Linked DNA regions of Homo sapiens. The protein of the gene in region 2 interacts with the protein of the main gene of each other region in a pairwise test. Each region holds a gene or a part of one and is shown on either strand. Other genes may lie near its edges.

Region 1 (3,500 bases), on a different chromosome or scaffold from region 2:
TTCTTCCAACCAACCTCCACCATAAATGTGGTGTTTGTTCTTGCTTTAGTTTTAGCAGAATTCATGTTGCTGTGGTAGAGGTTCTTTTCAAACTGTCTTATTCTTCTCAGTGTCTCAACTAGATCCTGTTTAGACATGAATGATAAGTTAGTATGAGTTTATTTTGGAAATACATTTTGCAAAAAAAAAAAAATTGAAATCCATGCATGGTTTTTGCACGATATGCATTTTCCATGAACTCTTTGAAAACCCCTTATATATGAGAATACTTACATAATGAGCATTCTTTGCTGAAACCTCTCTCCTAAGCTCCAGACCACATATATAAGTACTTGGTATGAAGGCTCCTAGATAGTGCCAAAGGTAGATATTTCACATTTAACATGAGCCAAAAAAAAAAAAAAAACTTCATTCTATCTCCCTTTCTTCTAATCGCTCATCTCTAGTGAAATTGTTTTGATTTGGCCTCCTAAATGTTTTGACGTTTTACCTCTCCATTCCCCTACCCTATACTTTTTCCAAGCTCTCCTTTCTGCTCACCTGGATTATTGCAGAAGTTTTCAAACTAATTTTCTTGCCTCAATATACATCCCTTTGATTTTTATCCAGAGGAATCCACTTAACCATATAAGATTATTTAACATCCCTCCTAAAAATCCTAAAGTGGCTCTCCTGTAACTTTTAGTTTATAAGTTCAAACTCTTTGTCTTAGCACATGAGGTACATGATGATCTGGCCCTGCTACCTTTCCACCCTCATCTCTTCTCACTTAATCACAGGCATCCTGTGGTCCAGCCATAGCAAGCTCTTTGCCTGAGACACACATGCTCTTACCTTTTCCCATGCTATTCCCTCTGCCTGGAATTTTCTTTTGGGCTTATCCTCATTCCCTTTCATTCATCCTTCCAACCTCCTACTCCAACCAAATCTGTCTTGATATCCCTATTCCAGACTGCCTCTGCTTGATGCCCCTTTTCTGGGCCCCATAACATTCTTGCAGCATTTATCACTCCCTGTCACTGTTTGTATCCCCTGGTATACTGAACAGCTTGGAAACAAAGATTTTCTCTTCTCTGTGCTCCCACTTGTTAGTACAAAGACTGACATAAATATTTTCTGAATGTATTCATGAATGAAAGGAAAGGAATGGTCTTTCTGAAATAGAGAATGGCATGAACAATGCATTGTGTTATAAAAGCAGAGTTGTATGGCATGACTTTTGGAGTCAGACATAATTGTAAGTCCTGGATCTCTCACTTACCACCTTTGTAAAATAGAGATGATAAAACTGTACTGGGAAATAATTTAGTTGTTCCAAAAGTAAATACTGAACAATACCATTATCTACAGTATGCAAGTCACTAGGTGTATATTCATGAATAAAATTAGCATGGTCCTGAACTCATGGATCTTAAAATCGAATATGGGAGACAGTAAACAGGTAAACAAATAAGTATATGATTACAAATACATTGTGCAGTGATGAAAGATAATTAGGTGAAGGGCAGCTAGACCTATTTAGATGTGGTCAAAGAAGTCCAAAGAGAAGAAGTGAATACTAACATAGAAGCCTCTGATACAGAGAAGCTTTTCGCTTTTTACTCTTTTTGATAGTTTTAGAATGTTGTTCCATATGAACACATTATTTACTCTAAAATTGTATTTTTAAAATATATATAGGGAAGCAAAAATAATTGACAGAAGAATATCTGAGTCTATTTGTCTTAATTGGAAGGAAAGATCATTTCCTATTGAGAATGAGGGACACGCAGAACAAATAAAATCCACATAGAAAGAAGTAAAGGTATGAAATAGTCACTAAGGACTATGAGAGAAGACAAGTGGAAGGATTAACGGCAGTGTTGAAGGCCCTGTGGAAAGGGGGTTACCATAAATTTGTATTCACATCAGCAACCCTGGTGTACAAGTAAAGTTGTTAGATTTATCCCTGGCTGCAGCTCTCCAGGATGGAGTAGCAGAAGTAAAGGGGGATTGCAGAAATAAAGATTCTGTCTAGAGAGTAGTTGAAGTGGTGAAGCACAGGTTTTGGCGTAGTAGCAAATGAATTGTGGTCAGGCAGATCTCATGGACTCAAAAAATGTGCAGAGGTCAAGGAAGAGCAAAGTATGTGAAAAGTGGGTGGGTGGACCATATCTGTTAATGCTACACAAATCATTTCAGTACGTTTTTTTTTTTTACTTCTACCAAAGAATGTTGCATAAATTTTAATTGTAAATAAGTACTAATTGAGAAACATAAATTGAAAGGTAAATGTTTTTATTAATAGATTTGATTTCTGAATATGCTAATTCTGATAGTTTGTTGATATTACTCTTAAGAATTTTTCTGGTAAGTTTTTTGCCCCTTTCTATAAATTTTACTAGGAAAATATCAGTGTCAGAAAAAAGTCCTCCGATTTTTATTGCTATTAATGGGTGGAAAAAGGAAGCAAACCCAGAGGATAATTGGACAAATGAATTACAATTTTAATTTCATCTTAGGATATCAATGACTTGACTTTGGAATGTTTCTTTATTATGGTATAATCAGTTGCTGACATTTCATATGATATAGCAAAGTGTGATATATAAGCTTACAGATGTCATCTCTAAAAGTACTGTAAAATTTTAATGAGATTTTTCCATATTTTAGGAATAGAAGATGAACAAACCCATAACACCATCAACATATGTGCGCTGCCTCAATGTTGGACTAATTAGGAAGCTGTCAGATTTTATTGATCCTCAAGAAGGATGGAAGAAGTTAGCTGTAGCTATTAAAAAACCATCTGGTGATGATAGATACAATCAGTTTCACATAAGGTAACAGATAAAATTCTTTGTATTTTTAAATTCTTACATCACAATATGGAATGATTAATTGGTATAAGTACTGTCTAATGTGGCAGTTTAGAAAGTAAACCTCTCCACTATGGAGGAGACATTGGTAGTAGGTAACCTCTTTTTGATTGTTCCTTTTGCAGTTTTGTCTTCTTTGTCCCATATGTCAATAGGGCTAATACTGTGATCTCTCAAATAAGTTTTTTGGGTTAGAATCAAGATTCCCACCTTTGCTGTGGTTCCCTGTTTGGCAAGCCAAGTGAAGTTCACTCTGCCTCACACTTCTCATTTCCAGATTGAAGGAAAATAAGAATGTTACAAGAATGTCTGGTAAAAATCTAGAGCTTAAATTTCAAAGTGTGTGAATCTCTAACACACTCTAACAATGTATTTTGGGACTTTTTCAATTTGACGTTTTAAAGTTGTTGCTTACAAGTGTACACTTCTGTGCACAGAATTCTTAAATCTTAGCTAGGATTTCTCAGTGCTGTCTTCAGATAATTTCAATTTTTCCTTTTTACTCATCTCTGCTCAATTTAGTGTAAAATATGCATGCATATTTTATTTTTGTCAGTCATTGCAGTTAAAACCTATGTCAAAATGTTTCTTTGGTAGCAAAAGGAAAAGAAGACTATTTGTTATTTTCAGCATTAATCTGGG
Region 2 (3,500 bases):
TTAGTTTTTGTTAAACCTGTAATATTTTAAAGCCTGAATATTAATAAGTAATAATAAAACCTTAGTGTTTTGAGATTAACATTATAAAAGACATTGGATGTCATTATAAACCAAAGATTGACGAGAGGAATATGTATTTTACACATTTGTTATGAAAATTAAGAATGTATCTCAAGGCTCTATTTAGCTTTAAAAATTAGATGCCAGGATACCTATGTAAATTGCCATTAATTAATTAATTTTTTTTTTTTTTTTTTTTTTTTGAGACGGAGTCTCACTCTTCCGCCAGGCTGGAGTGCAATGCAGTGGCATGATCACAGCTCACTGCAACCTCTGCCTCCCAGGTTCAAGCAATTCTCCTGTCTCAGCCTCCCAAGTAGCTAGGATTACAGGTGCACACCACCACGCTCAGCTAATTTTTGTATTTTTAGTAGAGACGGGGTTTCACCGTGTTGGCCAGGATGGTCTCAATCTCTTGACCTTGTGATCCACCCACCTCAGCCTTCCAAAGTACTGGGATTATAGGCGTGAGCCACCGTGCCTGGCCGTCATTAATTCTTAGTACTAGAAACTAAGTAAAGATGAATTAAATTCAATTAAAAATTTCAGTGACTCACAAAGATTTTCAAGTTTGTCAGCAATCCCATCCTTCCTTTAGAAAAGTAATAAATATGTCTGCTCAAAAGTTTAGAGAGGAATATGCCTAACACTGCTTTGGTACTTCAGCATGACATATGGAAAGGAAGTAGTTTTTTTAAGGCAGGTTAATTGAAAATTCTGAGTTGATAGACAAGCTGGTGATGGTGAGAGACAATTAAATGTAGGATAAACTCAGTCAAGTGTTTCTCAGTCACTTGTATATGAAATTTTATAATGTATTTTAGTTCAAATTTTATCTTGATCTTTGGTGAATTTTGAGTCTGCCCAGATTTAATAGCTTTCTAGTTTGATAATATGGCATATGACAGAGAATGAAGAACACAAAATGTAACAAAAATTTTAAGCAGAAACATCTGATTCATTTATGTTAGTCAGTGAGCATTTATGTCTTTCTTACATAGAATGAGCATCTAACAAATATTTCCATTAATGAAAAGTTGGAATGAAAATTTAAATTTGCATATTTTCTTGGAGCTTAGTCCTTGACCTATTTATACACACTCTGTAGTTATTTCATTGTAACCCATAGCTTTAAATGAATTTCCAATTACATCTCCAGCTCCAACATTTCTCCTTTATTCAAGATGCCGATGTTGAACTTGAGTATGTAATAAGCATCTCAACTCTAGGATGCAATATAAAGTAGTGATGGGTACCATGAAGCAGCAGAAAGCAGAATTAGGAATTAGAAAGCAATGAAGGGATGGGTGTTTCAGGGAAATGATTAGGGAGGGCCTCTCTTCAGGAGGTGACATCTGGTAAGAGACCTGAATGAAGTGAGAATATTGAGGGGATAATATTCCAAATGAAAGCAACAGCTACTGCAAAGCTTCTGAAGCATGAACAGATTTGGTGTGTGTGAAGAACCATGCAAGTTCCAGTTATATGACTGGGGTGGAATGAGAGTTGAATTGTTTATATACTTGGAGTACATTGATTTCAAGTATATAGAGTGAGAGATTTCTATACACCTTGTATTTTTAATTAATCAAATGTCTTTTTGGATTAATATGTTCTTTGTGTTTGGTATTGTACTTGATTTCAGAATGGTAGATTTGGAGAGCAGTTATTGCAGTCTTGGATAAGCTTGGAGAGTAGTATTTGGACATTAATATGACTATATAGAACAGAACCTTATGTGAAAAATAATGCTTATGAGGTAATCAGATTTTTTTTCCCCCCAGAAAGTATTAATGAAGCTTAGAAAACCTAGAATTACAGCTACAATTTGGTCCTCAGGAAAAATTATTTGCACTGGAGCAACAAGGTAAATGCTACTTGGGTTTTTTGTTTTTATTTTTTACTTTTTCCCTCATGGAAAGGACATTTTCCTAGACTTAACAGCAAAATCATATGTAAAGTTTGTTATGTTCCTCAGTATAACATTTATTTCCTGTGTAACTGATAATCTTTTTCTTTCCTTAAAACCGTAGTGAAGAAGAAGCTAAATTTGGTGCCAGACGCTTAGCCCGTAGTCTGCAGAAACTAGGTTTTCAGGTAACGTTTTCAAATAGTATCTAAACTACAAATATTCAAGGACTTATTTTTATAGAATTAAAAATTGTAATAGACTCAAGAAATCACTATGCGTACTATTCTTATGATTAAACTTTTTCTAGGTTTTTTAATACTGCCCTTCAGTGTGAAAATTAGTAGCAAAATTTGGCTATGTGGGTATTTGTAAAGGATCCTAGCTTTTTCCCTAATTCCTTTCCCATAAAGAGACTTGTTTCCTCACAAGTTAATTTCCTTTTCAACTCTTTTTTAAGTGTTTTCACCTCTGACGTACACAAACAAAATGGTTTTTGGTCATCTCAAGAATGCCAGGTCAGAATGGTGAATAGAGAATGGCAGAGGCCGTTGACATGGACACACCAGCTGGCAGGCTCTCACACTTGTAACGTGACTGTCACTGGCATGTCAGCCTCATCACTATAACTTGATAGAGGTATACCTTTGAATAAAACGATTACATATTATGGACTTGCTAGGTCACTTGCAAATGATGAATAAATGAAAGATAAAGATGAGAATGGTCCCTGAAGATGAGGGCAAGGCTGTTTGGGATTGAGACAAGTTTGTAGAAGTGGGGATAGGAAGTTACCTTTCCCTCTGATGACTCAGTCTCTCTGAAGTAGAGGGTGATAGGAAGAGACTGAACGGCTGGTGGGGAGTGGGGGTTGGTGCTTGAGAAGGGTGGCAGTAGAGAGAGGCTTGAGTTGTACTGTGATTTGAGAGTGCTGCCACTTTGCGGTTTCCTGGCTTTGCGCAACTGCTGTGTGCAAGGCTGAGTTGAAGGATAGTTCGCTCACCCAAAATTGTGGTTTTAGGAGGAATGTTTGAAAAGATAATGAGATGAAACGAAGATGTTGGTTGGAGTGGCCAAAGTTATTAATGTTAACAGCATTATTTTCAGCCTTGGAACTTCTTTTCTTAGTGTAACATTAGAAGTGTTGAGAGAAATCCCAATTAGTTAGAAACAAATTTATCACTCTATCCCCAGAAAGAAAATAAACATCTAGCTAATCTCACAGAAATGTCATTTTGCCTTATTGCATATGAGAAAAACATCTGACTTTTGGAGCCCAGTGTACACTCTGTATTTACTGACTTTAAAGTGACATCTTTTCCATTTTTACTCTAGCAGGATGACCTGGACTTAAATTTTTTTTCCCTCACTATTCTCTCTCCTTTCTCAGTAGTTTTAAATATTTCACTTAAAGTATTAAAAAATTAAACATATGATTAGAAAGACCCATACTGTTTTGATCATGCAAATACCTCAGTTTTTAATTTTTTTAATGGAGTTTTTGAGCTTTTTAAAAAACTGAATTAAAGCT

The links. Proteins that work in one complex are often made in the same cells at the same time.
Region 1: the proteins of TBPL1 (region 2) and IRAK4 interact in a two-hybrid assay, tested with the Homo sapiens proteins (one large-scale study listed by IntAct).

The regions. Positions count from the first base shown.
Region 1 is NC_000012.12:43,765,451-43,768,950, forward strand, and holds part of IRAK4 (interleukin-1 receptor-associated kinase 4), read left to right. Parts: intron 1-2,652; 5' UTR 2,653-2,661; coding exon 2,662-2,822; intron 2,823-3,500.
Region 2 is NC_000006.12:133,980,724-133,984,223, forward strand, and holds part of TBPL1 (TATA box-binding protein-like 1), read left to right. Parts: intron 1-1,844; coding exon 1,845-1,927; intron 1,928-2,093; coding exon 2,094-2,157; intron 2,158-3,500. UniProt on the Homo sapiens protein: Part of a specialized transcription system that mediates the transcription of most ribosomal proteins through the 5'-TCT-3' motif which is a core promoter element at these genes. Seems to also mediate the transcription of NF1. Does not bind the TATA box.